Homo sapiens: one gene and its partners. The protein of the gene in region 1 purifies or fractionates together with the protein of each later gene. This does not show direct contact. Each region holds a gene or a part of one and is shown on either strand. Other genes may lie near its edges. The genes, in order: ALDH3A2, SAAL1, INTS1 and TBC1D9B.

Region 1 (7,948 bases):
GTGTGTTTAATGAAGTAGCAAATGAAAGGTTCGGAATACCAGGGACAGAAGGTAGAGGGGTTTTCTAATGTGCCTTTGTTTTCTGCTCAGTTCTTACCTGCATTGTTCCCCAGCCCTTTGTTGGGAGGAGCAGCCTCTCCTTGAATTGTTTTGTGATTTGAGTAAAACGGGACTCCCCCTGTTCTAGAGAGGATGGGCAGAAAGAAATTCATTCCAAGTGAAGCTTTGTGGACATAGCCTGATCCTTGCTTTTCCCTTTAGAACATGACCTGCCTGCCTCTCCCACATGTGAGATGACTGACTCAGCTTTTTATTTCTCCTTTGGGACCTAGGCTAGGTGGGCTTTTCTACTCTCTACTAGAGCTATTACAAAATAGCCGATATGTAAACATTCTCATAACAAAAACCCAACCAGAAAAGCCACTGTCTTAAAGCCCTGTTCTATCCTCTCCCTTTGTAATACCGTCCTAAGTCAGTTGCTCCATGGGATGCGATGGCCCAGTTTGGCAGGACCATCTGTTCCTGGTTAAGGAAACCTTGTCCTATGACCAAGGAGCCTTGACCTATATAGCCACAGGTCCTTGTCTAGGAGGTAAACATATTGCCAGCACCCAGCACAGTGACTGACATGAGTGAGGGACAGGCGGGAAGAGGCCAATTGGTAGGTATTGCCAGATCCAAATTGGAAATGGTGGTGGCTTGTAGAGGGTGGTAGCAGGGGAGATAGTGGAAAGGGAAGGGGGTATTTTTGGGATCAAGCAGCAGGATTGGCTGATGGAGTGAATGTTGGAGGAGGGGGTGAATGAGAGAGGATGACTCCTGGGATTTTGGCTGGAGTAAGTAATAGTTTTGTAGCCCAAATGCTTAAAAGATTGGACTCTGTTGTCTCTGTTCCTCAGCTCACCACATAGGATCCTGGCATCCACTGTGCTAGTGCAGTAATCAACTCGGTAATTGTTCCATATGGTGTCTCCACTGCCCTCTAATTGCAAATCTAAGTGACTTGGGTTCAGTCCCTGTCCTACTTGACAAGATAGCCTGTGGCATCATTGACTATACCATCTTATTTAAAACAAAACAAGGCTGGGCGCAGTGGCTCATGCCTGTAATCCCAGCACTTTGGGAGGCCGAGGTGGGTGGATCACTTGAGGTCAGGAGTTCCAGACCAGCCTGGCCAACATGGTGAAACCCCATCTCTACTAAAAATACAAATGTTAGCTGGGTGTGGTGGTGCGTGCCTGTAGTCCCAGCTACCAGGGAGGCTGAGGCAGGAGAATTGCTTGAACCAGGGAGGTGGAGGTTGCAGTGAGCTGAGATTGCGCCACTGCACTCAAACCTGGCAAACAGAGCGAGACTCCGATCTCAAAATAAATAAATAAATAAATAAATAAATAAATAAATAAAAATAATAAAATAAAACAAGCAACCTATTATATACCCACAAAAATTAAAAATACAAAAAGAAGATGCAAAAGAAAAAAACAGGTTTACTCTCTTAGCAAATTTCAGGCATATAATACATTATTATAGTGGCCATGCTGTAAAAAAATAAAAATAAAAAATAAAAACAAGCCTTGACCCCCAAATGTAAAAAGAATACAGGCTTTTTAAGAAAACTTGGAAAAGATAGAAGAGCCCAAAGAATAAACATTTATATTACCCATAACCCCACTATGTAAAGATAACTGGTATATGTCTTGCACACATATGCACACACATATACACGGTCATCTGAATATTCTATTCAAAAAGGTATCATACTATATATTGTTCTGTACCCTGTATGTGACAGAATAGTGTGACACTTTTCCATGTCAATATTCTTGCATGTCATAATTTTAGTAGCTGCATACTTTTCCATCATATGAATGTGGCATATTTATGTAACCAATTCCCAGTATTAGATTTTTGTGATTTCAATTTTTTTGGTATTACGATTCTTATATAATGTATCTTTATGCAATCTCTGATTATTTCTTTAGGAAAAATGTCTACAAGTGTAATTACTCTGTTAAAAGGGCTTATACAATTTTCCAAATTGAAAAAAATGCTTTTTTCTTCTAATTCTCAAAGTAATATAGACACAGTGGCAAAAAGTCTAAACAGTTAAACTTTTTAATATTTTGGCATATAGTTTAGATTTTTCTTTTTTTTTTCTTTTTATCGAGACTGAGACTCCCTGTCACCTAAGCTGGAGTGCAGTGGTGTGATCTCAGCTCATTGCAACCTCCAACTCCTGGGTTCTAGCAATTCTCCTGGCTCAGCCTCCCAAGTAGCTGGAACTACAGGTGTGTGCCACCAGGCCCAGCTAATTTTTGTATTTTTAGTAGAGACACGGTTTTGCCATGTTAGCCAGCCTGGTCTCAAACTCCTGGGCTCAAGAGATCCACTTGCCTTGGCCTCCCAAAGTGCTGGGATTACAGGTGTGAGCCATCGCACCCAGCCTAGGTTTTTCTTTAGAAATGCTTCTCTTTAAGACTTTTGATAGATATTTCAAGTGTCTTTGCAGATTTCTGCCACTTTATATTCCCATGATCAGTATATGAGTGTTTACTTCCTTATATCCCCAATTCTGGATTATTCCATTATTAAATTTCTAGACAGAAAAGGGTCTCATTTCAATTTGTACTCCTTTGATTATTAGTGAGTTTGAATTTTTTTTACCACTCTCATGAATTTTCTATTTATGTCCTTTGATATTTTTGCTGTGTTCACATCTTCCTTATTATTGGTATATAAATAGCCTTTTTTATAAGTAAGAAAATCCTCAGTCCTATCTGTAATACATATCCCTTTCCAGATTTTAATTTTTCTTTTAATTTTATCTATGATTTGAAGCGTTTATTTATTTAGAGACAGAGTCTCACTCTGTCACCCAGGGTGGAGTGCAATGGCGCGACCTCGGTTCATTGCAACCTCTGACTCCTGGCTTCAAGCAATTCTCCTGCCCCAACCTCCCAAGTAGCTGGGATTACAGGCACCCGACACCACTCCTACCTAATTTTTGTAGTTTTAGTAGAGATGGGGTCTCACCATGTTGGCCAGGCTGGTCCTCAACTCCTGATCTCAGGTGATCCACCTGCCTTAGCCTCCCAAAGTGCTGGGATTACAGGCATGAGCCACCACATCTGGCCTAAGCCTGTGTGGCTTTTTGTTTTTTGGTTTCCGATTTGGAAAGTAGGCTTAGAAAAGCTTTCCCTATTTCATTATTATATAAATATCATCTGTAGGCTGGGTGCGGTTGCACACACCTGTAATCCCAGCACTTGGGGAGGCCAAGGCACCTGGCTAACATGGTGAAACCCCGTCTCTACTAAAAATACAAAAAATTAGCTGGGTGTGGCGGCACCACCTGTAATCCCAGCTACTTAGGAGGCTGAGGCAGTAGAATCACTTGAACCCTGGAGGCGGAGGTTGCAGTGAGCAGAGAGTGCACCACTGTACCTCCAGCTTGGGCAACAGAGCGAGACTCTGTCTCAAAAAAATAAGAATAAAATAAATAAATAATTAAATATTATCTGTAGTTTCCTTCCCTCCCTCCCTCCTTTTCTTCTTTTCTTTTCTTTTTTCTTTTCTTTTCTTTCCATTTAACCATGGAGTTGGCCAAGCATGGTGGCTCACACCTATAATCCCAGCACTTTGGGAGGCCGAGGCAGGTAGATCACCCGAGGTCAGAATCTTGAGACCAGCCTGGCCAACATGGTGAAAACTCATCTCCACAAAAAATACAAAAAAAAAAATTAGCTGGGCATTGTGGCATGCACATGTAGTCCCAGCTACTTGGGAGGCTGAGGCAGAAGAATCGCTTGAACCTGGGAGGCGGAGGCTGCAGTGAGCCAAGATCATGCCACTGCACTCCAGCCTGGGCAACAGAGCGAGACTCCATCTCAAAAAAACAAACAAACAAAAAAAACACCCTGGAGTTCACTTTAGAATGCCATACGCTGCATGATGTAATAATTTACCTTTTTTTTCCCAAAGAGTAAACTATGCTGGCACCATTTTTTGAAATAATCATCCTTATACCATCAGTACTCAATAAAAACACGTTTGGGTCATTCTTAGGGTTTTCTCATTGGTTGCATTATCTTTCTGGTTTGTTTTTTCCGTGGGCCAGTACCACAGTTTCAATTACAGTAGTTGTACAGTTAGCTTTATAAGTGACATTTAGTAAGTGCTTATTGTATGCCAGGTACTGCGGTTGAATCCACGCCTTTTCTTTTCTTTTTTTTCTTGTTTGAGATAGGGTCTCACTCTGTCACCCAAGCCAGAGTACAGTGGTGCAATCACGGCTCATTGCAGCCTCAACCTCTTAGGCTCAAACAATCTTCCCGCCTCAGCCTCCTGAATAGCTGGGATTACAAGGGTGCACCACCATGCCTGGCTAATTAAAAAAATTTTTTTTGTATAGAGGCGGGGTCTCACTGTGTTGCCCAGGCTGGTCTTGAATTCCTGGGCTCAAGCAATCCTCCCACCTCAGCCTCCCAACGTGCTGGGATTACAGGTGTGAGCCACCGTGCCCGGTCAAATGCACGCATTTTAGAGACAGACAACTAATAAGTAGTAAAGCCAAGAAATGAGCCAAAGTTGTCTGGCTCCAAAACCCACATATTCAACCAATCCAGTAGTTTGCTCTTTAGGACACAGTACTATTTCAATACCTAAAAGTAAAAGCTCCTCATTATTACTGTTTTTCGATGTTTTCTTGCTTGTTCTTATCTAAATTTATTTTTCCAGATGATCTTTGGAATCACTACCTCCTCCTACTTAAAACAAACAAACAAAACCTTCCGAAATCCCCTAGGATTTTTATTAAAATTGATTTAAACTTAAATTATTTTGGGAAGAATTTATATCTTTAAAATGTGGAGTCTTAATGGGAATATGTTATATCATCTCTTCATTTATATAGCCCTTTTATATCTTTCAACAAAACTTTGTAATTTCCTTCATGTCAGTTTTTTGCTTTTTATTTATTTTTTGAGACAGGGTCTCACTCTGTTGACCAGGCTGGAATGCAGTGTGGCACAATCATAGCTCACTGCAACTTTGAACTCCTGGGCTCAAGCAATCCTCCTGCATCAGCCTCCCAAATTTTTCCCAGTTTCTTACTACCTTGGTTATGTCTTTGGCTCGCCCCTCCCTTATTCTTTTTTTTTTTTTTTTTGAGACGGAGTCTCGCTCTGTCGCCCAGGCTGGAGTGCAGTGGCGCGATCTCAGCTCACTGCAACCTCCGCCTCCCAGGTTCAAGCAATTCTCCTACCTCAGCCTCCCAGGTAGCTGGGACTACAGGCGTGCGCCACCACGTCCAACTAATTTTTGTATTTTTAGTAGAGACGGGATTTAACGATGTTGGCCAGGATGGTCTTGATCTCTTGACCTTGTGATCCACCCGCCTTGGCCTCCCAAAGTGCTGGGATTACAGGCGTGAGCCACCGCACCCGGCCCCCTCCCTCATTCTTTACCCTCCCTCAGAGTTAGGGTTTCTCATGGTCTTGTCCTTGGGTCTCTTCTCACACCAGGCCTGCTTCATGAATGATTCCTTCCTGCAGCCTGGCCTTGGTAAACTGCTCCCTGGCCTCTGGTCACCTGTGTCTTATATCACACATGCCATTCCCTCTGCCCAGCTCACACTGCTCCGCTTTGTGCCTGTCAGTCTGTTGTACACACAATGAATTAGAGAAATGAAACTGTCACAGAGCATGGCTTTGTGGAGGGCAGAGATTTACACTTGCTTATTATCATCCAGCTGTGCAACCTTGTTGCCCTGTCTTACTTTCCACAGGCTTTGAGAAAGCAAGTGGGTGTGTGGGGCCATGGATGAATGAAGCCACATGGGATGGTGGGAAGAGAGCACATATAGCATTTAGAGTCTGATCCAGGTTCGGGTTCTGGCTTTGCCACTTAGCAGCCGTGTGACCCTGGGCAGGTTAACTGACCCTGTAAGCTCCCTTTCCCTCTCTGGAAATGAGGCTGCTGATAATTCACCAAGTGGGATTGTGGTGAGAATTATCTTAAGAGAATGATTTAACTCTTAGCACAGTCCCTGGCATAAATGAGAGCCACAGCTCTAGAAGAGGTGCAAGTCCTTGTCTTGCTCATGGAAAGCATCCTGTTTGACAGGGAAATTGACTTTTCCAGGGAAGTTGGTAAGGACTTCCTGAAAAGAGATACTTCAGCTGGCAGAGATGTTCAGTGGGGTTCCCAGGCAGCAGGGAGTGCATGTGAGCTTTCCCGGTCGTTGTTAGACAGAAGTAGCTTGCATCATCTACAGTGAAGCTTGTTTTGTCTGTTCCCTTTATTTCAGGTTCCAGTGGGATGGGAGCTTATCACGGAAAACATAGTTTTGATACTTTTTCTCATCAGCGTCCCTGTTTATTAAAAAGTTTAAAGAGAGAAGGTGCTAACAAACTCAGATATCCTCCCAACAGCCAGTCAAAGGTGGATTGGGGAAAATTTTTTCTCTTGAAACGGTTCAACAAAGAAAAACTCGGTCTCCTGTTGCTCACTTTCCTGGGTATTGTAGCCGCTGTGCTTGTCAAGGTGAGTCCCTATAACCCATGAGTGCCATTCAGTCTGGTCCTGGCCTGATGGCTGCCAGATGCATATTCTAGCAGGACTCTACATTAACTTGTAGAGTCTAAGACAGGGTCAGTGAACCACAGCCTGCTGGCCAGCTACCCGTTTTTGTCACTGAAGTTATTGGAACACAGCCACACCCACTTGTTTAATCATCCACAGCTGCTTTCATGGGACAGTGACAGAGCTGAGTAGTTGCAACAGAGGCTGAATGGCCCTCAGAGCCTAAATTATTACAGAAAAGTTTGCTGATCTCTGGTCTAAGAGATTAAAACAGCGTAGAACTTGATTGCAGAATTCTGAGCTGTCTGATCAAAGGGTTAGCCCTTTGATCCTTTTGGTATTGGACTTTCCTTGTCACTTACAGCTTTGTTCTTGAATGTGCATGAAATCAGCTTACCACAGAGGTGAAGGCAAGAACTCTGGTACAACAGCTTTGGTGAGGGATATTTTATTAGGCTTGAGTTTTTTTCCTCCAAAGTTCACTACCTGATAAAGTTTATCTTTGGTGATTAGTCATTATAGGGATGGGCTTGCAAAGAGGCCCTCATGATAGCTGCCTTCTCAAAGCAGTTTGCGTATTTTGAGATGAAAGAGGAAATCCGTAATTAAAGTTAAGATGGAATGAGGAAGGCAATTGTGTCTGTGGTGCCCTCAGCCGTTCAACTGAGGATATAACATTGAAAATATTGACCATATCAGTGAAGAATGGGCTTGGAAAAGGCAATGGTAATAGTTGTGTTTATGTTTTGTTTAAAATTTGAAAGGGGGCCGGCGCAGTGGCTCACACCTGTAATCCTAGCACTTCGGGAGGCTGAGGCAGGGGAATCACGAGGTCAGGAGTTCAAGACCAGCCTGACCAATATGGTGAAACCCTGTCTCTACTAAAAATACAAAAATTAGCCAGGCATGGTGGCACGCACCTGTAGTCCCAGCTACTCGGGAGGCTGAGGGAGGAGAATCACTTGAACCCGGGAGGTGGAGGTTGCAGTGAGCCAAGATCATGCCACTGCACTCCAGCCTGGGCAATAGAGCGAGACTCCATCTCAACAACAACAACAACAAAAATTTGAAAGGGGTTTGGCTCATCTTACAGTATCCCAGCCTTAGTGGAATTGGAGATACCAGTTGCATTTGAAATCATTTGGGTTTTCTCAGAAATACCAAGCTGTGCTGAGGAGAAAGGCCCTGTTGATTTTTCTGGTAGTTCACAGACTGCGTTGGTCCAGTAAGCAGAGATGAACACCAGATTTCAAAACCCAGCCCTGTCTGTTAAGAGTGAGGTAGGAACTTTTTGTTTTCTTTCTATATGTAAGGTGGGCCAAGTTGGGGTATGTTTTCAAGGGTTTTTTGGTTTGTTTTTGTTTTT
Region 2 (7,948 bases), on another chromosome or scaffold:
TTAAATAAGAATTCTAATTCAACATTCAATTTGTAAAAATACACTATGGAATTCTCCATTTTATAATCTGAAAGAGAGGAAATACAGTACAGTGGTTATACTGAAGTCAGGCCTAGGCTGAAATCTCAGCTCCATTCTTTCCTAGCTGTGTGACCCTGAACACATATCTTCACCCAAGATTTAGTTCTTTGAAAGTATACCTCATAGTAGTAAGACCAGGTATTCAGTAAACAGCAGTTTTTCATAATTATAATTATTGAACAGATATTTACTAATCCATGATATGCATAGCACATGGCAATTTAATTGGCAATAAAGCACAGTACACTGCACAGTATATAAAGGCCTCTCCTTTAGTCTTTATCTATTGTTCTTGGCAGTTTACTAACAGCAATGACTACTGAAAGCTTACTTACTTACTTGGGAAGGTGTGGAAGGAAAAGTACCACTGTGAATTAACAGATGCAAATACTGAGAGGGGACAGAAGGCACACAAAGGGAGGCACGGAGACAGCATGAGACAGGGAGTAGAAAGGTCTGGCTAAATCAGAAGGGTTACCTGGCTATCCAGATTTTATGCTGGAAAGATGAGTTAGGTTCAGAGAGTAGAGGTCTTAAGCAGCAGGCTGAGTTTAGAATGGTTTTCAAGCAATGGTGGATTTTGTCAGTAAAAAAGAGAAATCAACTGAAAAATGGGAGGCCCAGGCTCTGTTCCTTGTTCTGATACATACTAGCAGCATAACAGTGGTTATGCCTAACTCGTCTCCACAGCTGGTAAATGAAAGTGCTAATTTCCCTGGTCCGGCCTGAATCTAAAATTCTATGATTTTCATAATTTTAAATTATTAAATTATTAATAATTTAATATTTTAAATTATTACAGGCATTTAGCTCACGCTTATAATCCCAGCACTTTGGGAGGCCAAGGTGGGAGGATCACTTGAGGCCAGGAGTTCAAGACCAGCCTGGGCAACATAAGGAGACCTTTGTCTCCACAAAATAAAAATAAAAATTAGCTGGGTGTGGTGGCTTACACCTATACTCCCAGTTACTTGGGAGGCTGAGGTGGGAGGGTCCCTTGAGCCCAGGAGGTCAAGACTGCAGTGAGCCGTGATCACGCCACTGCACTCCAAGCCCTGGAGACATAGTGAGACCCTGTCTCAAAAATAAAATAAAATAAATTTAAATAGCAAATTACCTAGGACCTGGCAATGTTCAATTAACATCTACAGGCTGATTTGTTGATTTATGGTCAGTAAGAAAATCAAAGTGAGAAAAATAAAAGACTATCCAGCACTATCTGTTCTTATTGCTTCAAAGAAGAAGGCTTTAGAAATGTACATACTTACTCTTAATCGAGGACACTTGGACTTGGCCAGTACTCCCATGAATATATCAGGAGCATTAAATTCTTGGAGAAATAAAGCCACGTCCTGAAAAGAAAAATGATTATTAACTTGGATGTTGAATATTCCTCCCTAAACCCTAAAGCTCAGGCAACCATAAAATTCTATATTAAAATTAGAATTTTACGCCAGGCGCAGTGGCTGACACCTGTAATCCTAGCACATTGGGAGGCCAAGGCTGGCAGATTGCCTGAGCTCAGGAGTTCAAGACCAGCTGGGCAACACGGTGAAACCCTGTCTCTACTAAAAATACAAAAAAATTAGCCGGGCATGGCGGCATGCACCTGTAGTCCCAGCTACTCAGGAGGCTGAGGCAGGCGAATCGCTAGAACCCGGGAGGCAGAGGTTGCAGTGAGCTGAGATCACGCCACTGCACTCCAGCCTGGGTGACAGAGCGAGACTCTGTCTCCAAAAAAAATAAAAAAATAAAATAAAATTAGAATTTTAGACACAAGAAAAAAAAAACACAGGCTTAGGAACTGTGTCAACAGACAAAAGTGATGTTAGAGAGTCTTTATGGTAACTAGTCCCAGACAATGGAACAATTTCATAAACAAATCTAAACTACCTACAATACTCCAGAGGATTATCCCACTCTTTTCTGCCCGAATCTATTTACCTTAATAATTTTTCTGCCCACTAGGAATTCTCATTAAACACATTCAAACACATTTGGTGATTACCTATCAGGTATTAAACTAGAAGCGGGGGACAAGGGAAAAAAGCAACACGCTGGGCGCAGTGGTTCACACCTGTAATCCTAACACTTTGGGAGGCTGGTTAGAAGGCCGAGGTGGGTGGATTACTTGAGCCCAGCTTGGGCAAACATAGTGAAAACCCATATCCACAAAAAATACGAAAATTAGCCAGGTGTGGTGGCACATGCCTGCAGTCCCAGCTACTTGGGAGGTTGAGGTGGGAGGATCACTTGAGCCTGGGGAGCTCAAGGTTGCAGTGAGCCATGACTTTGCCACTGTACTCCAGCCTGGGCAACACAGCGAGAAAAAAAGGAAAAAAAAAAAAAAGGTAAAACTTGGCTGGGCGAGGTGGCTCACGCCTGTAATCCTAACACTTTGGGAGGCCAGGACAGGCGGATCACTTGAGCCCAGGAGTTCGAGACCAGCCTAGGCAAACATAGTGAAACGCCATCTCTACAAACAATACAAAAATTAGCTGGGCATGGTGGTGTACCATCTGTAGTCCCACCTACTCAGGAGGCTGAGGTGGAAGGATTGCTTGAACCCGTGAGGCAGAGGGTGCAGTGAGCTGAGATCTCGCCACTGCACTCTAGCCTGGGCGACAGAGTGAGACTTTGTCTCAAACAAAAACAAAATTCCTTCTTGTCCTCCAAGAGCTTAAAACACGGTAGGGGAAAGAAGTCAAGAACTGCTATTGGGTCCTGTCCAAAACCAGAATTTGTGTTTTCAAAATCATCAATAGAATAAAAATTCTGATCACAATGTAACTGTGGCAGCCTCATAACTTCTTCCTACAGAGTCTGCCACAGTGCCTAAAGGGGCGTAACACACAGGTGACATGTGAGTGGACATGTGGCCCCAAATGAGCCAAATCTCACCTAGGAATGTAAGACACAAAAGCTAAGTCAGTTTGCTTGGGGACCTGCAATGTAAAATATATAAATAAAATTAAGTCTCTGGCTGTCCACTGCTTCAGATTTTCACTAAATGTGAGGTGTGTATTTGAGAAGCCTTAACTTAAAATATAAGCTGCATGGCTTATGTGAAAATTAAGGGCCCTGGAACATCTCAAAGAGACAGGCAATTATTCTCCACAGCAAGTGAAACCAGTAACCTGCCAGACAACTGACTGAGAGAGACACACTCTACTTACTAAAGGACCATGGTCAGAGAAAATAGTATTTTCAAAGATACACTCTAAACTGAAAGTCATAATGGCAGATTCTCTTCACTGTAAGTGATCAAGCTGTCCTGTGGGCAATTCTTTGCCACATGCAGAAATTTTTAAATTTAATGGTAATTCCTGGAGTAGCACAAGGGTGGCCTAACAATATCAACACCAACAGTAATAAAATTAACATTCATTGAACAAGTATTAAATGCCAGGCACAGTGAAGTGGCTTGCATGCTATCTCATTTAATTCTCAAAACAACTCTATCAACTAGTTATCATTGTTAGCCCCATTACACTCATAAGCAAACTGAAGTTTAAAAAGTGTAGCAACCTGCCCAAGATTATACAGTCTCAGCAGAGCAAAGCTAGGATTTGAACCCATGAGTCTGATTTGAGCCTATGGTCTTGTTTTTTAAAAGAGATGGGGGTCTTGCTATCCTGTCCATACTGGAGCAGTGGCTATTCACAGATTCACAGGCATTATCATAGCTCACTGCAGCCTCCAACTACTGGGCTCAAGTGATCCTCCTGCCTCAGCCTCCCAAATAGCTGGGAATACAGGCAAGTACCCAGCGAGACTATGTTCTTAACCAGCACAACATGCTACCTCTCAGGTATTCATCTATTCATTCATTACTCCCCAAATATTTTCTGAAAAACCTAATAGGCACTGTTTTAGGTTCTGGGGATACATCAGTGAACAAGCTAAATAAGGGCTCAGTCCCATGGAATTTTCATTCTAAAGAAATGAACAAACAATAAATATAAAACAACTAAACTACACAATTTCTAAATGCTACAAAGAAAATAAGATATGTGCTAGAAACCAAGATAAAGCGGGCTACTTTAGACATGACATTGAAAAGAAGGCATTTCAGAAGGGGTGACATTATGCTTTGATGAGAAGGAATTTAAATCCATCAGAGGACACATGTAACAGAGTGAAGCAATTCTGTGGGAACACCAAAACAAGACAGGTTAATTCTGACTGGAGTGTCTGGGGTGGCATCACAGAGGAGGTGACATTGAAGCCGGGCCATAAACAATGAGAAGGATTTTGCCAGCTGGAAGCCATTCTAAGCAGAGCGGCATGAATAGTGCCCATGGACACGTGAAAGTGCAGGAAGTATCTGGAGGTCTCTGGTCCTCGCACACTGAATTCATGGTTACAGAACGATAGGCGACAAGACTGAGATATAAACTCACCAGACTTTGCGCCAGGGACCTCAATTGTCAGTGGAGAGCTCAGTTCTGAGTGGTGCCTCAAGGGCACCTCTTGTAAGGGAGCAAAAGGAGGCCAAAGAACATGACTTTGCCCTGCACCAATAACCTCCTTCAAACAGTAGCGCTGTTTTCTCAATTTTAAAACTGAGACTTTCACCCTAAGAGTTCATTTAAAACACAGGTTTTATTTCTTTTTAAAAAAATTTGTTTAACCATAATTTATCAATAATTGTAGAATAGAAAGTAGATCTGAACAATACTCTCAACCAACCTGATCTGACATTGAGAATAAGATATTCCACCCAGCAACAGCAGAACACACATGCTTTTTAAGTCAACATGGTAAATATTTCAGGTTTACTTAAAACCATATTCTGGGCTATAAAACAAATCTCAACACATTTAAAAGGATTCAGTGTTCACCAACCACAGCAAGAGAAAGATAACTGAAACATTCCCAAATATTTGAAACTTACCTATAAACCAAAGAAAAAGTAAAGAATATTAGAAAGTATTCTGAACTTCTGCGGGCATGGTGGCTCACGCCTGTAATCCCAGCACTTTGGGAGGCCGGGGCAGGGGGATCACTTGAGGCCAGGAGTTCAAGACCAGCCTGGCCAACATGGCAAAACCCCATCTCTACAAAAAATACAGAGCGAGACTCTGTCTCAAAAAAAATTGTAAACACAGCATATCAGAAATTGTGGAATACTGGTAAAGCATAAATATTTAGGGAAAATTCTATAGTGCTTGATGTCTATCTTTAAAAAGAAAAGATTTCAAACTATAAAGTATGTGGACAACTGATTTTTGACAAAGACACAAAAGCAATTAGTGGAGAAAGGATCGTCTTTTCAACAAATGAACTTGAACAATTAAATATCCATAAGCAAAAAAATAAACTTCATCCATCCTTGCACCATATACTATACAAAAATCAACTCAAAATGGATCACAGACTTATATGTAAAACCTAAAATTATAAAACTTTTAGAAGAAAATGTAAGAAAACAACACAATTAAAAAGCAGGCAGAAGATTCAAACAGGTACTTCACCAAAAAAGATACACAGAGTACAAATAAACACATGAAAAGATGCTCATCATTAGGAATTAAGGAAGTCCAAATTATAATCACAATGAGCTATCATTACATACTTATTAGCATGGCTAAAATTAAGAAGACTGACCATACTAAGTGTTGGTGAGGTTGAGGAGAAATTGGACCTGGAATTATGTCTCATACACTGCTTGTGGTTATGTAAAATGGTAAAAAACTGCTTAGGAAAACAAATTGAAAGTTTCTTAAAAAGTTAAGCATACACCTACCGTATGATCCAGCCATGCCACTTGATATATGGTCTGGCTCTGTGTCCCCTCCTAAATCTGACCTTGAATTGCAATCCCCATAATCCCCACGTATCAAGGGCAAGACTAGGTGGAGGTAAGTGAATCACGGGGGTGGTTTCCCCCATGCTGTTCTCATGATAATGAGTGAGTCTCATGAGATCTGATAGTTTTATAAGCGTCTGGCATTTCCCCTGCTCGCACTTCTCCTTCCTGCCACCGTGTGAATAAGGTGCCTGCTTCCCCTTCCCCTTCTGCCATGATTGTAAGTCTCCTGAGGCCTCCCCAGCCATACTGAACTGAGAGTCAATTAAACCTCTTTCCTTCATAAATTACCCAGTCTCAGGTATTTCCTTATAGCAGTATGAGAATGGACTAACACACCACTCTAGGTATTCACCCAAGGAAAAACAAAGTATATGTCCATACACACTTGTATACAAAAGTTCACAACAGCTTTATCTGTAATAAGCCTTAAACAACTCCAACATTCATCAACAGGTAAAAAATAAATTGTGGTATATACATATAATGGAATACCATTCAGCAATAAAAAAAAAAAAAAAAGCCACTGATATACACAACATGGATGAATCTCAAAATAATTATGCTGTATAAAAGAGCCAGACCAAAAAAAGCATATGAGCACATTCATATAAAACTCTAGAATACATACTAATCTGTAGTGACAGAAAGCAGATCAGTGGTTGCCTGGAGGGGATGGAGGAATGGAGAGGCAAGAGGAAGAGACTACCAAGGACCATAAAGAAACTTTCAGGGGTGATGGGTATGCGCTGTATCCTGATTACAGTGACAGCTTAATCTGCGTACACATCCGTCAAAGTTTATTGGCTGGGTGCGGTGACTCACTCCTATAATCCCAGCACTTTGGGAGGCCGAGGAGGATGGATCATTTGAGGTCAGCAGTTCAAGACCAGCCTCGCCAACAGGGTAAAACCCTGTCTCCACTAAAAATATAAAAATTCGCAGGGATTGGTGGCTCACACCTGTACTCCCAGCTACTCTGGACGCTATGGCAGGAGAATCACTTGAGCCCTCGAGGCGGAGATTGCAGTGAGCTGAGATCGCACCACTGTACTCCAGCCTAGGTGATAGAGACTCCATCTCAAAAAAAAAAAAAAAATCAATGTCAATGATACTTCAAAACAATATGCAGTTTTTTGGTGTTAATTATACCTCAATAAAGTTTTAAATAAAATGACTGAAACAATGAATAGCCATTGACAATTTTTAAGAAAATGAGTACAATTAAGTCTGTATTTCCGGAAAAAAAGGTAACACGGGTGGCAATGTAGAGGACAGAAGGGAGGTGAAAGAGACTAAAACAAGGATTTTAATCAGGAAGCTATTGCTAAAGTCCAGGTAATAAAACAAGAAAGATTACATAGGTCATTTAATGTCTTTTGGCCTCTATTTTCTTAACTGTAAAATAAGGGTACTACCTACATCACAGGGTTATTGTGAAGATCAAATAGAATACTATATATGAAAATGCTTTTGAGCTATAGAATAAAATACAGATATTAAAACACTATGATTAATACTGCAATTACAGACATATAATTATTTATTGTCCTTTCCTTCTAATATTATCATGGTATATCAGTGGTCTTCTAACTCCTAACCTGCTGTCAAATATATGGCCAGAGCTCTCTTTAGGTAGGTAAGTATCAGAACTTTCCCGGCCTACATGTGTATAGGAATACATTCATAAGAGCTACGTATTTAGTCCGAATCTGTTGAGAGCTCAAATCCTCCAGCCTCAAAGACAGAAGTTTAGCATTTATAGCCCCTGGGATCTCATTCCCTATATCATATATGGGTGTGATTACAGACAGGAGATAAAGCCTTTCCCCAGAGTGAAGGACTGAACCGTTTTTAAAACATTCATTCACCATCTCCTCACCCAACAGTCTTCAGAGTTTTGTTTCCAGCCTCATACCTCATCCATTGACATATCCCATACTCTGCAAATTTCATTCTCCATTTCTTCATCAAGCTCCGTCAGCTGCTCCTCATCATCTGAGCTAGATTTGGTGTTTTCAGGGCTAACAATCTTCAGAAACACAAAGAAAGAAA
Region 3 (4,561 bases), on another chromosome or scaffold:
CGCCCCACCCTGTGCCGAAGCCGTCTGAACCCACCCCTGCAGCTCTCTGGCTCTCTGTCCCGTTCCACGCACATGTGGCTTCCCCGCCCGGCCCTCCCTCTGAGCGTCCTGGCCTCTCCTGCATGCCTGTGTCCACACGCTCCCATGCCACCCTAGTTTGACCCCTGACCCAGCCTTCCTCCTGCCAGCGTCTTCCTCCCAGGTGAAAGCATCTTCTCTCCCCAGCGACCTGTCCTTCGACAACAGTGACCTGGTGATGCTGAAATCCCTCCTTGCAGGGCTCAGCCTGCCCAGCAGGGACGACAGGACCGACCGAGGCCTGGACGAAGAGGGCGAGGGTGAGTGGGGCTGCCAGGGGCTGCTGGAAGCAGCTGCGGAACAGTCCTACAGGGCCTGGTTTTCCCAGCGCACAGCCAGCCCTGGGCCGTCCGAGGCGTCCCGATGGGGGCTGTGTGAGCCTGGGACCTTGCTGGCTGGCCCCTGACCCACCTCAAGGGGACGAAGCACTGACTGGTGCCTGACAGAGCATCAGCACACCTGCCCCCCGGCACATCGCCCCGCCCCGGCAAATGGCCCTCCCCACCCCCCCGTCCCTGGCACATCCACCATCCACCAGTGCTTGTCCGAGGTGTCCCTCCCCAGGAAGCCTCCCCTGGTCCTACTGGGCAAGGCTTGTCCTTGGTTTTTCCCTGCCTGAGGTGACACGGCACCGCAGCACGTCTCTCCTGTGCCGCCGGAAGAGCGCCAGGCCCGGGTCCCAAGGGGCCATCCCGTCTTGTGCCCAGTGGGTCCTGGCCCACATTGCGAGAAACCCAGCAGGGAGAGACTCGCAGAGGTGCATGCGCCGGATCCAAAGGCAGCTCCCGGCTCCTGGCTCCACCCCATTTGTGGAGCGCTGCTGTGTGCAGGCACCTTGGGAGCCTGGGCAGTGGCCGCCGTGCTCTCGGGAGGGCAGGTCCTGGTGCCTCAGTGTGGCACGTCCTGCCGCTCCCGCCCTCCTGCAGCACTGCCACTGTCTTCCAGAGGAGAGCTCAGCCGGCTCCTTGCCCCTGGTCAGCGTCTCCCTGTTCACCCCTCTGACCGCGGCCGAGATGGCCCCCTACATGAAACGGCTTTCCCGGGGCCAAACGGTGGAGGGTGAGTCAGGCCCTGCTTCACCCACGCCAGGTCAGCGCCCTGGGTCCCATGGGGCTGCGGGCAGCAGCCAGTAGCCATTTGGGCACTGACTTTGGCGTGAGCCTGGCCCACGCTGGGCTGTGGGTGGGTGGGCTGTTCCTCACAGTGGGGAGCACCCCCAGAGAGGGCCTTAGAAACTCAGGGGCCCAGGGGAGCTGGAGGTGGCTGCTCTGCTTCAGGCACAGCAAAAAGCAGGGGAGCCCCCTAAGGTGGTGGGGGTACAGCAGGAAGAGGTCAGGCGGGTGGGCAAGACCAGCGGGTGGGCAGTACCGGTGGCCGCTGTCAGAGGACAGCCAAGGCTGAGCGGCCCGGATGGAGTCGGGCCGTGGGGACACTTGGTGCTAAGAGCACCCTGGATATGGGGCTGCCGTGAGGGGTCAACCCCTCTCCTTGGAGGCCACTAGTAGGGGCAGGGCCGGGTATTTGTGGAGCTTGGGGGCAGGTGACTGCCTGGGGCGTCACTGGGCTCATGCTTTCCAGTGCTTTCTGTCCTGTGGTGCTCGGGGCCTTGCCCCCTCTGGGTGGCTGGGGTGGGGTGGGCAGAGGTCTGCCTGGGCCCTTCAGTTCTGGTCTGGCCCTCTCTCTGTGTCAGATCTGCTGGAGGTTCTGAGTGACATAGACGAGATGTCCCGGCGGAGACCCGAGATCCTGAGCTTCTTCTCGGTGAGCTGGATGGGGCTGAGGGAGAGCTGGGAGGAGCCACTCCCTTGGGGAACCCCAGCAGGGCCACCACCCCAACATGGCGTGCCCGCGCTGAGCCCCAGGGAGTCCTCTGAGGCTGGGCTTCGGGTGGGGGCCCCAGCCCAGGTGTTCACAGTCAAGCCGCCGCCAGAGCAGGCCTGCCTTCAGCCCCGGGCTGGGACCGGCCAGTGGCACGTGCGTCCTGCCTTCTGGATAGGGGCCTAGGGTCCCTGCCGTTGCCGCCAACCATCACGAGACCAAGAGGTGAAGGGGCCTTGATGGGGGCTGGACCCCTTGGTCACACACCTCCCACCTTTCCCCCGGTCAGACCAACCTGCAGCGGCTGATGAGCTCGGCCGAGGAGTGTTGCCGCAACCTCGCCTTCAGCCTGGCCCTGCGCTCCATGCAGAACAGCCCCAGGTGAGGCCACCGCCGGCCTCTGTCCCGCCGCCACCGCTGGGCCCTGCTAACCCAGGTCACCGCTTGACCCGCCTGGTGGCCAGACCAGGCTTCCAGGCGGCTCAGCTCGCCCTGTCGGGTGGGGGTCTGGCGTGGGCACAGGGTGGAGGTTCCCACTGAAGTGTGTGGGTCTTTCAGCATTGCAGCCGCTTTCCTGCCCACGTTCATGTACTGCCTGGGCAGCCAGGACTTTGAGGTGGTGCAGACGGCCCTCCGGAACCTGCCTGAGTACGCTCTCCTGTGCCAAGGTGAGGACTGGCCCCCCGCCCAGGGCCCTGGCAGCCCTCGGGGAGGCCGGAGGTGCGTCCCCCGAGGGCTGGCTCTTGGGAGTCCCGAGGTCTGGTCACTGCGGCCAGGATGTTGTGGCCAGCGTGACGTGCAGGGCCCCGTTTCCCCCACAGAGCACGCGGCTGTGCTGCTCCACCGGGCCTTCCTGGTGGGCATGTACGGCCAGATGGACCCCAGCGCGCAGATCTCCGAGGCCCTGAGGATCCTGCATATGGAGGCCGTGATGTGAGCCTGTGGCAGCCGACCCCCCTCCAAGCCCCGGCCCGTCCCGTCCCCGGGGATCCTCGAGGCAAAGCCCAGGAAGCGTGGGCGTTGCTGGTCTGTCCGAGGAGGTGAGGGCGCCGAGCCCTGAGGCCAGGCAGGCCCAGGAGCAATACTCCGAGCCCTGGGGTGGCTCCGGGCCGGCCGCTGGCATCAGGGGCCGTCCAGCAAGCCCTCATTCACCTTCTGGGCCACAGCCCTGCCGCGGAGCGGCGGATCCCCCCGGGCATGGCCTGGGCTGGTTTTGAATGAAACGACCTGAACTGTCTGTGTGCTCTCTGGTGTCCCATGTCGCCCTCTGGCCAGTGAGAGCCTCAAGGACCCTGGCCTTGGCTTCCCAGCCCCACAGTGCAGGGAGTTGAGCAGGGTCCGGGGTGGTGGAGACCAGGGCCAGGCTGGGCTCTCCCTTGGGCCAGCAGTTCCCGCAGGTGTTGAGGGTCGGGGGATGCTGCCCACTTGGCCGCCCCCGCCCCACGTCATGGTCTCCCTGTCGAGTGCCGGCCCTGGGCCCTGCCGGGCCTCAAGTCCTCTGCCCACGGGGTCGGCCTCTGTTGAGTGAGTCCGGCCTTGTCAGGCTGCGTGGGGGACTGGCCCAGCTGACTGGTCTCTCTCTCCTGCACTAAAAGGATCAACAAGGCCCTGAGAGCCTCAACTGTGGGCGTCCCTCTGTGGGAGCTGAGTTGGGGTCCCATTCCAGAAGAGTCCGAGTAGCCGGTGGTGCTGCTCGTCCTGCCTTTGCAGGCACCAGCTCCCAGGGGAGGGTCTGGGAGGGTCCTAGTGCATGCGGGGCGGAGCTTGGCATGGGGCCCTGTTTGCTGGCCCGCAGTGCACTCTCCTCCCTCCCAGCCAGGTTGGGGTTAGAGCCGCCCACCCCTCTGTCCTCGCTGCACCGGGGTCTTTCCAGCACACAGATGGGACCCGTGCTCTCCCGGTTCCCCATGAGTGCTCCCAGGTCAGCCAGGCCCCGGCTGCCCTCCACCCCAGCCGCTGTGGCTAAGAAGCTGACCCAGGCCCTCCTGCAAGCCCAGGTGGCGCGAGGCCTCAAGGTTCTAGTGATGCTGTGGCCTTGGGGGATGCCCCGCAACAGCACCCAGCAAGGGGGCAGCTGGGCTCCAGGCCCACAGCCTCCCAGCCCAGCCCCTGGCCTGCACACCTGCACCACCTGCCCGGGCCCCTGGGCACTCCTGCACCCGCCTGCCCACCCTCGGATTCTTCCAGGCTGCACAGGGCCGGGGACCAGGTCCCGGGTGGGGTGAGCCAGTGCCGGGTCTGTCACCAGGCGTGCCTGTCCACAGCTGGCTCCTGTGGCTCCGGGGGACTGGGAGGCTGCTCTGGGAGTGACTTGGAGGCCCATGGGCCGCTGAGCCGCCTCCATCCCAGCTGTGCGCGGCCGCCCTCCCCCACCCTTGCCCTTAGTGCGTTGCCTTCAGGCCCTTGGTGCGGGCACCTCTGCCCTGGGTCTGAATGTGTGTTAGGGTTAGGGACAGGGACAGCAGTGAGGAGGCCTAACAGGCCGGGGTGTGGGGTGAGGCCCTTCCTGCTCTGTGGTTGGCTCTCCTACCTCTGCGCGGATAAGGGGCAGGGCCGAGATTTGAGCCCTGGGGCCCTGGAGCCATGGGCTGCCCCAGGGTGGGGCTGGGCTGAGTGGAAGCAGGGCCCAAGGTTTGTGCAGTGGGAAAGGGCCCTGGAGGCTCAG
Region 4 (8,574 bases), on another chromosome or scaffold:
GCTCTAGGCGGCCCAGCCACCCCTGTGAAAGCGGCGCCCGTAGCCAGACGCCAAGGCTGCCGTCCCGAGCCGAGGGTGGCACCTTGCCCAGCGCACGTGCATTCTCCTGTGGGAACTCGGAGGGCATGTGGTGAGCAGTCTCCTGTCAGTTGAGGTGGAGGCTCCCGGCCCATCTTTGCTCTCCTCAGGCTGCCCAGCTCCTGGCGGCACATGGTGGCCTGGCAAAGCTGACTTGGCCTCCTCAGTTCCCCACCCATCCGCGGATCATCGCCTTCCCTAGCCACCTCTCTCTATAGCCACCGACATCTGCGGAGCGTCACAGACTGGTTCTGAGCTGTGGTTTACAAATTCAACCCAACACAGAGTGAATTCAAATTTGCTTTTGGAACAGCCTTTATCTCCAATTAAGTGCAAGTATATTTACACTATGTGATATTAAAGGACTTCTCCAATGACTGGGAGGTACTGAACCAAGATGTTTGTAAAGAAACGGTGGGGTGAGGTGGTTAGGTAGAATATACCGTCCTGGCCATTTCTCTTCCTTCAGGCGAGTAAGCGCTCCTTCAGCAGAAAGGCTGCGGATTGCTGGCTGTGCTCTGTGGACTGGGCCAGTAGGTGTGGCCCAGGTCCAGGTCCTGGCACCTCTGCTGAGTGCCCAGCCTGAGATGACACATGCCATCCTGGAGAGAAGCAGAGAGGGTGCTGTCTCCAGGCGTTCTCCAGACAGCCTGGGCCTGGCTTGCTGAGCCAGCTGCAGGAGGGGATCTCCTGACTGGGGCTTGGGACCAGATCTGCTGCAGAGAGGCAATAACTCTGTCTAAAAAGAAAACTTGTCCCGTGTGATTACAAAAACAGGAAAAGGCTCCAAGCTAGGAAATGAGATTTGAGGTATGGAGAACATTCTCACCTGATGGAAGCATCCTGTTCCTGTACAGGAGGAGGAGCTGGTGCAAGCCCTAGGCCACATATGTCACAGTTGTTTTGGACCCTCCGTAGCTTTTATACTCATAAAATATTAAAGTTGCCCCTTTCATATTTGGGTCATTGAAAGAGCCCACCGTACTCTAGGTTCCTGCTCACTATGCACAACATCTCAGAAGATGGCGTACAAAACTATTTTTCTAACTATAGCACAGGTAATGTGGGGGTGGGGAGGCTTGGGATATACCTAAATGTGGCAAATGATTTATCTTCCACCTTGAGGGATGAAAAGGAAACTATGCACTTGAATTTTAATTAAAATTTTAATTTAATTCATTGGATAGCTTGTGCCAGAAAGAACAGTCAATATTCAAGAAGCAAAACTGACGATTAGCTCAGTTTCGGGCCTCCCTGTCGGGGGAGTTTTCTTGTCTGGAACACAAACACCTACAAGTAGAGTGTGAGCTGGTTCTTGACAATCAGATCTCATCAACCCTTTGAAATGTTCTGGGCAGCACAGCTCCTTGGTCTGCATGGTTGGTGTAAGTATAATCAAGTAGTGAAATTGTATGGTATATACCTATATGCCAACAGTGTACACCCGTATGTGCAGAATTTGCTAATATAACCATTTCAATAAAAACCTATTGAAAAAGCTGATTTGACCACATGGAGTATTGTTGGTGGTGACGTGTATCACTGAGGACTCTCTTGGTTACAAATGACAGAAAACCCAGCCAAAACTGGCTAACACAAAAGGGGAATGTCATGGCTCCCAAAAGCCAAAATGCCCAGGGGTGCCTATGTCAGGCTTGGTGTGATTTCACCCTCAAATGCTGACACCAAGACACATGCCAACTTTGCTCCTCATTGGGAACCCCATCCCCAGGCTCAGGGTGGCAGTAGCTCCATCAACACAAGAGCCAGTCCCCAGGAGGTGGCCCAGGTCAGGACGGTATTTCCCTGGCCCAACTGACTTGGTTGGAGGCACATGGCCATCACCAGCCAGCCCCTGTGATCACAGATAGAATGCACCGATGGCCTCAGCTGGCATGGGCTCCACCTTCACAGCCCAGGAGTCCATGTGTCTTCACCTGACAGACAAGAGCTGAGCGTTCTAAGGCACGGTTCCCACTGCAGAAAAACAAACGACACTGCACAGACGGGAGAAGTGAATGCTGGGGGCAAAGGCAGCACGTGTCTGACACGTGTGGAAAAGCACTGGAGCCAGAGGCCGGGTGCAGTGGCTCACGCCTGTAATCCCAGCACTTTGGGAGGCCGAGGCGGGCAGATCACTTGAGGTCAGGATTTCGAGACCATCCTGGCTAACATGGTGAAACCTCCTCTCTACTAAAAATACTAAAATTAGCCAGGCATGGTGGCACGCACCTGTACTCCCAGCTACTTGGGAGGCTGAGGCAGGAGAATCGCTTGAACTTGGGAGGCAGAGGCTGCAGTGAGCCAGGATCATGCCACTGCACTCCAGCCTGGGCGACAGAGTGAGACTCCGTCTCAAAAATAAAAAAATAAAAAAATTTTTTAAATGGGCAAAGGACATTTCTCCAAATAGACATTTCTCCAGATAAAATATACAAATAACCCAAAAGCCCATCATCAGTCATCAGGGAAATGGAAATCCAAACCACAGCGAGATACCATTTCCCACCCTCTAGAAATGAGCATCAAAAAAAAAGAAAGACAATAACAAGTGTTGACAAGATATGGAAAAACTAGAACTCTTTTTTTTTTTTTTTTTTTTGAGACGGAGTCTCACTCTGCTGCCCAGGCTGAAGTTGCAGTGGCGTGATCTCGGCTCACTGCAACCTCCACCTCCCGGGTTCAAGCAATTCTCCTGCCTCAGCCTCCCGAGTAGCTGGGACAAGCATATGCCACCACGTCCGGCTAATTTTTGTATTTTTAGTAGAGACGGGGTTTCACCGTGTTAGCCAGGATGGTCTTGATCTCCTAACCTTGTGATCTGCCCACCTCGGCCTCCCAAAGTGCTGGGGTTACAGGCGTGAGCCGCCGCGCCCTGCCTAGAACTCTTACACCCAGCTGGTGGGCATGTGGAATGCTACAGCTGCTTTGGAGCGCAGTGTGGTCACTGCTTAAAAAGTTAAACATAGCTGTACCACATGACCCAACAATACCACTCCTCAATATATGCCCAAGAGAATTAAAAACACATATTCACACAAAGACTTGTACACATGTTCATGGCAGCATTATTTATAATAGACGAGGGGTAAACAATCCAAATGTCCATCCAAATGAATAAAATGCGGTGCATCCATACCGTGGGGTACTATTCAGCCATAAGGAGGAATGAAGCATCAATACGTGCTACAACGTGGGTGAACCTCGAACACATGATGGGAAGTGAAAGAAGACAGACACAAAAGACCACATATTGTAAGGTTCCATTTATATGAAGAAATGGCTAGAATGGGAAAAATGTATAGAGACAAAATAGATTGATGGTTGCCAGGGCAAAGCCGGGGGGAAGTGGGGAATGGCAGCTAATGGGTAAGGGGTTTCTTTTGACTTGATAAAAATGTTCTGGAATTAGTGATGATGGATGCCCAGCCTAGTGAATATACTAAAAACCACTACGTTTTGCACTTTAAAAGAGTGAACGTTACGGAATGTGACTTATATCTCAGAAAATCAAAAAGAAGTAAGCTTAGCACGCACATACTAAGTGATCGATAAATGTTTGTTCTTTTTCTTCTTATAAAAAACCATTCTCGAGGAGTGGTCTCCAGGTCAGCAGCATCAACATCACCTAGGAACGAGTTAGCAGTGCAAACACCCTGGGAGGGAGGGGGCAGCAACCTGTGTGGCTGTTTTTTGTTTTGTTTTGTTTTCAGATGGAGTCTTGCTATATTGCCCTGGCCGATTTTGAACTCCTGGCCTCAAGTGATCCTACCACCTCAGCCTCCCAAGTGGCTGGGACTACAGCAGCCTGTTTGAATCAGCCTTCCAGGTGATCCTAATGTATACCCAATTTGAGAACCACTGGGATTAAGGAACAAGACGACTCTTTACCTCCTCTCAGGGTGTTAAAAAGTGCAGTTCTTCCAAATTCTTTCCCTCTAGAGAGCACAATGACAATATTAGTTCAGACTTCCAAGGTGTTGAAGAAAGCCCGCCTCTGCATCTTGAAAGCTGATTCCTATATCCAGCAACATTGAAGAAGACTGCAGATCACTCTGGGTGTCAACTGCATGTACCTACATCCATCGCACCAAGATTCTTGAGTGCCAATCACAGAAACCCACCTGGAAGTCAGGTCCAGCTCCAAGGATGGTTTAACTGCCCCCTTCCCTTTGCCCTCTAGCCAGACCCTGGTGAGGGTTCCAGCCAGCAGGGTGACCCCACATCCCAGTCGACCCCGGACAGGCCCCAGGCCCGTTGTCCCAGGTGGAGTTGACAGCCCCCTCATGCAGAAGGCTGTGTGTGGACTGGCGCTGCCCCTGCAGGCCAACACTGGGAGACCAGGGACCCGCATTCGCCTGCAGCCAGCCTCACACTTGCGCAGAAGCCGCCACTGGGCCCAGGGCCAGTCCAGACCCCATCCCCAGGGCCGGCCAGCCTCTGTGACCCGTCTGTCAGGGGAGGGGCAGCACTGATTTCCAAGGATGCAGCCCGTATCAGGGCCTCCTGGCACCTGCCCTGCGCTGGAAGATTCTTCTAGTCTCCCGGCCCCAGTGTCAGAATTCTGAGAACTGGCCGGGCGCGATGGTTCACTCCTGTAATCCCAGGACTTGGGAGGCCAATGTAGGCGGATCACCCGAGGTCAGGAGTTCGAGACCAGCCTGGCCAACATGGTGAAACCCCGTCTCTACTAAAAATACAAAAAAATTAGCCGGGCGTGTTGGCGGGAGCCTGTAATCCCAGCTAAAGAGGCTGGGGCAGGAGAATCACTTGAACCCGGGAGGCAGAGGTTGCAGTGAGCTGAGATTGCGCCACTGCACTCCAGCCTGGGCGACACAGCAAGACTCTGTCGAAAAAAAAAAAAGAAAAGAAAGCTGAGAATTAGGAGGAACTGCAAACCCTTTCCAGGCGCCCTTTGCAGTGCTAACACGCCCCGGGTTGCACGCGCAACCAGCCAAAAGCCGCCAAACTCTGCTTCTTGACATCCTTCTCTCACACTGCACAGCTTTCAAAACGCCAGAAGCCCTGCTCTGCACAGCGGCTCCCCTGTCTGCGGACTGGGCCGTTCCGTTCTGGACCCAGGCCGGAGGCCGTGGGCTGCACCGCTCCAGGAGGCCAGGCTGGCGCGCGCCCGAGGCCGGGGCTGAGGGGGCGGCGCGGAACTCGGGCCGCGTGCGGGAGCGCCACACGCCCGCCAGGGGGCGCCGCCCGCCCGGCCCCGCCCCGCCCCGGCCCGCTCCGCACGCTCCGCTCCGCACGCTCCGCTCCGGGACGCCGACGGCGGCGGGCGCTTCCGTCTCGCGGGCCTCGGCCCGGTGCGAGCGGCTCCGCGATGTGGCTGAGCCCGGAGGAGGTGCTGGTGGCCAATGCGCTGTGGGTGACGGAGCGGGCCAACCCCTTCTTCGTGCTGCAGCGACGCCGGGGCCACGGCAGGGGCGGCGGCCTTACGGGTGAGAGGCGCGCGGGCGGCCGGGCCTGTGGGCGCCGCGGCTGGGCTGGCGGCGGGGCTGGCGGCGGGCGGCGGGCGGGTCCGGTTCCGGCCCGGCCTCGGCGCGTCGCGGCGGACACGCACGCCAGCGCGCGGCGGGGCGGGGGCGCGAGGCCAGGACCCGGGAGCCGGGCGCGGAGGGGCCGGGGCGGGGAGGCGAGGGGCTGGCGGGAGGCGAATGCGCCCTCGGCGGGCTCTCCTCAGGTCGGCTTGGGGCGGCCAAGTGGAGACCGGCGGCGGCTTCTGCCCGGATTCGGCGCCCGCGAGCCCCGGGGGCCGTGCAGCTTCCCGGGATCTCACCGCCGAAAGTTGGCGAGACCGCCCTGTCCTCATCCTCCACCTCAGTTTCCCCAGGTGCCTCTAAGGGGCCAGGTGACGCCAGCGCACGTTTTCTTTTGCCCTCTTCTTCGTGCCCATCTCACCAAAGTATCGCCCTTTTAGCAAGATCAGAGGTCCCTGGAGCTGGCCGCACCCCCATTCCCCCAGCTTCTCCTCCCCCACCTTTCCTGCTCCTGGCTGCTCTCAGAGCTGCGCACCCAAGGCTGTGGGTAGCGGCACAGGGTGTTCCTGCAAGCTCGCCAAGGTGGCCCTTTGTGGGCCCGGGTGCCACCATCACACAGGATGAAGCTGGACAGGCACCCTTGGAGTCGTGCGGCCTGTGGGATCCAGGGGAGGCCCACAGGCCACTCCCTCCGCAGGTGGTGTCCGGGGCCCCTCATGCTCCAGGGCCTGCGCCCAGCACTGCAGGAGCCCGGCTGGCTCGGGCTCAGTGCCTGTGCTCTTCGGGGCACCGACTGTTGCCCTACAGGATTGCGGTCCCAGTGTTGCCAGGTCGTCCAGTTTATCAAGAGCATTTTCTGTGAATCATCCTGATTTTCAGTGTGAGCAGCTAATAGCCAGATGCAGACGGAGGCTTCTCCTGGGCCACGTTTCTTCATGTGGAAGAGACTGTTCTGTTCCCAGAAACACTCAGTGTTCCCTTCAGCTTCGGGTTCCCTCCCAGTGGGCTTCAAGGATCTCGGGCTCCTGTTCTGGACCCGCCTCCTAGATCCAGCTGTTCAGTCGGCAGCCCCTGTGGCTAACCTCGAAGCTACTGCAAGCCCGATGAAGAAAGCGAGGGACCGGCACCTTTTCTTCCGCCAGCGCGCCAGGGTGTCATCAGCGCGCCAGTGTGTCATATTCGCTGGTGTACTTGAAACACTTGTGCTGTGCTCGGCAGGCTTATGTGGGTCGTCTCATTGAACGGGCGGGTGCAGGTGCAGCCCGGTCTCTGTACACCTCCTTCCTGCGGGCTCTTCTCCTTTCCACCTCACTCTCCGTGTCCCCTGGGACCGAGCTCCCAGGGTCCCCCCAAGGGAACCCTTCTTTGAACCCTCTCCCAATCTCTCCCCACTGCTAGGTTTGGTGTGTCCTGCTGTGCCCTCTGACAGGGCCTTCCCTGTGCCATCATGGGCATCGTGGCCTCCTGAGTACTGTCCTCCCTGAAGAGGAGCAGACAGGGATGTGGTTTTATCCAAGCCATCTATTAAAAACATGCCAACCTAGACTTTTCATTAAAGAATCTGAATAGCTAGCTTGGCCAACATGGCAAAACCCCGTCTCTACTAAAAATATAAAATTTATCCAGGCATGGTGGCACGCGCCTGTTATCCCAGCTACTCGGGAGGCTGAGGCACGAGAATCGCTTGAACCCAGGAGGTCAAGGTTGCAGTGAGCCGAGATGGCGCCATTGCACTCCACCTTGGGCGACAGAGCGAGACTATCTCAAAAAAGTATTAATGGACTATGAAACAAAAGTGTTAAAGTTGAATAACAGCAATAAAAATTGTTCTGACATCAACAGGAAAAATGGTAACAAAATATTTTCAGATCATGCCAAAAGCAGCACTTCGTTAAAAGGAAGAAAAAATTTCAAGTAAAAACAATAAACAGGTTTTTAGATTGCTCGATAATTCAATTAGTGAATCAAACAATGATAAAAGCTATATATTTCCTGCTGATTTGTCAGGAAATAGTGACACTGACAAAGATAGCATTACCTAAAATATAAAAGCAAAGATAGCGTTGCCACAGACTGCTTAATGTGTGTCATCTATCAAAGGGGTATATGTGATGAGAAGAAAAACTTGAAATGCCCTCAAATGTTTCAGTTCAGAAATGAAAAAACTTTATATTTTCCCAAATTTGACAATTCTAAAGATCGACTTCTTCAGTTATGATTTTTTGAGGCTAAAAGAAACTTCCTTAAACTGTCGGTAATAAAAAATCAGTGAGTCATGGCAAAGGGGAGACATTATCTTTCTGTTCTTGATATGGAAAATAATGTTGCAGAATCATTGTCCTGTGTGTGAAGAAGCGATGAGTACAGGACCAGAACTGTCCGGAAGACGTATTTCAGGAGACGCACATGGCAGTTAGGAAAACATTGTGTTGGTTTTCTGGATTTTGTGATATTTCTGATATTGTTCTTTTTTAACTTTAACGTGTAGCTCTGTACTTTCTCGGTCTAAAGCAATACTTGTTTTGTAGTCTAGTTTTGTATACGTAAAGAGGGCTTCCCAGAATTGTTTAAGCTCTGGCCCCATGAAACTTGTATCTGCCTCTGCCTGCAAGTGTTTCTGAGCCAGGAGAAGAAGCAGATGCTTCCAGGAAGAAGTAGAAGGGGATGTTTTTGATCGGGATCAGACACTGGCTGAAGGCCTTTGACCGCAGGGGTCATTCCGGACGTTTCCCTCGTTGGGCTGGACCCTTTGGGTAGCGTCACCATCCTGTCTGCCTCCGGCCAGACTCAGCCTTCAGGGGCCTCAGTCCGGCCCTCCCCTCACCCTCTATGTCTCTCTGCCCTGTTCCCAGGTCTTCTCGTGGGCACCCTGGACGTGGTGCTGGACTCCAGTGCCCGCGTGGCCCCTTACCGCATCCTGCACCAGACCCAGGACTCCCAGGTCTACTGGACAGTGGCGTGTGGTAGGTGCCCTGAGTGGTGAGGGGTGCTGGGCAGGGCCTGCCCT

Evidence for each region.
Region 2: the proteins of ALDH3A2 (region 1) and SAAL1 purify together in Homo sapiens (affinity purification with mass spectrometry; 3 studies listed by BioGRID and IntAct, with this or other methods). This does not show direct contact.
Region 3: the proteins of ALDH3A2 (region 1) and INTS1 purify together in Homo sapiens (affinity purification with mass spectrometry; 3 studies listed by BioGRID and IntAct, with this or other methods). This does not show direct contact.
Region 4: the proteins of ALDH3A2 (region 1) and TBC1D9B purify together in Homo sapiens (affinity purification with mass spectrometry; 3 studies listed by BioGRID and IntAct, with this or other methods). This does not show direct contact.

The regions. Positions count from the first base shown.
Region 1 is NC_000017.11:19,665,414-19,673,361, forward strand, and holds part of ALDH3A2 (aldehyde dehydrogenase family 3 member A2), read left to right. Parts: intron 1-6,307; coding exon 6,308-6,543; intron 6,544-7,737; coding exon of another isoform or gene 7,738-7,821; exon of another isoform or gene 7,822-7,862; intron 7,863-7,948.
Region 2 is NC_000011.10:18,095,422-18,103,369, forward strand, and holds part of SAAL1 (protein SAAL1), read right to left. Parts: intron 7,926-7,948; coding exon 7,812-7,925; intron 1,434-7,811; coding exon 1,350-1,433; intron 1-1,349. UniProt on the Homo sapiens protein: Plays a role in promoting the proliferation of synovial fibroblasts in response to pro-inflammatory stimuli.
Region 3 is NC_000007.14:1,468,849-1,473,409, reverse strand, and holds the end of INTS1 (integrator complex subunit 1), read left to right. Parts: intron 1-225; coding exon 226-338; intron 339-1,023; coding exon 1,024-1,137; coding exon of another isoform or gene 1,138-1,167; intron 1,168-1,768; coding exon 1,769-1,839; intron 1,840-2,185; coding exon 2,186-2,277; intron 2,278-2,454; coding exon 2,455-2,564; intron 2,565-2,717; coding exon 2,718-2,833; 3' UTR 2,834-3,133; downstream 3,134-4,561. UniProt on the Homo sapiens protein: Component of the integrator complex, a multiprotein complex that terminates RNA polymerase II (Pol II) transcription in the promoter-proximal region of genes.
Region 4 is NC_000005.10:179,904,658-179,913,231, reverse strand, and holds the start of TBC1D9B (TBC1 domain family member 9B), read left to right. Parts: upstream 1-5,334; 5' UTR 5,335-5,410; coding exon 5,411-5,528; intron 5,529-8,419; coding exon 8,420-8,530; intron 8,531-8,574. UniProt on the Homo sapiens protein: May act as a GTPase-activating protein for Rab family protein(s).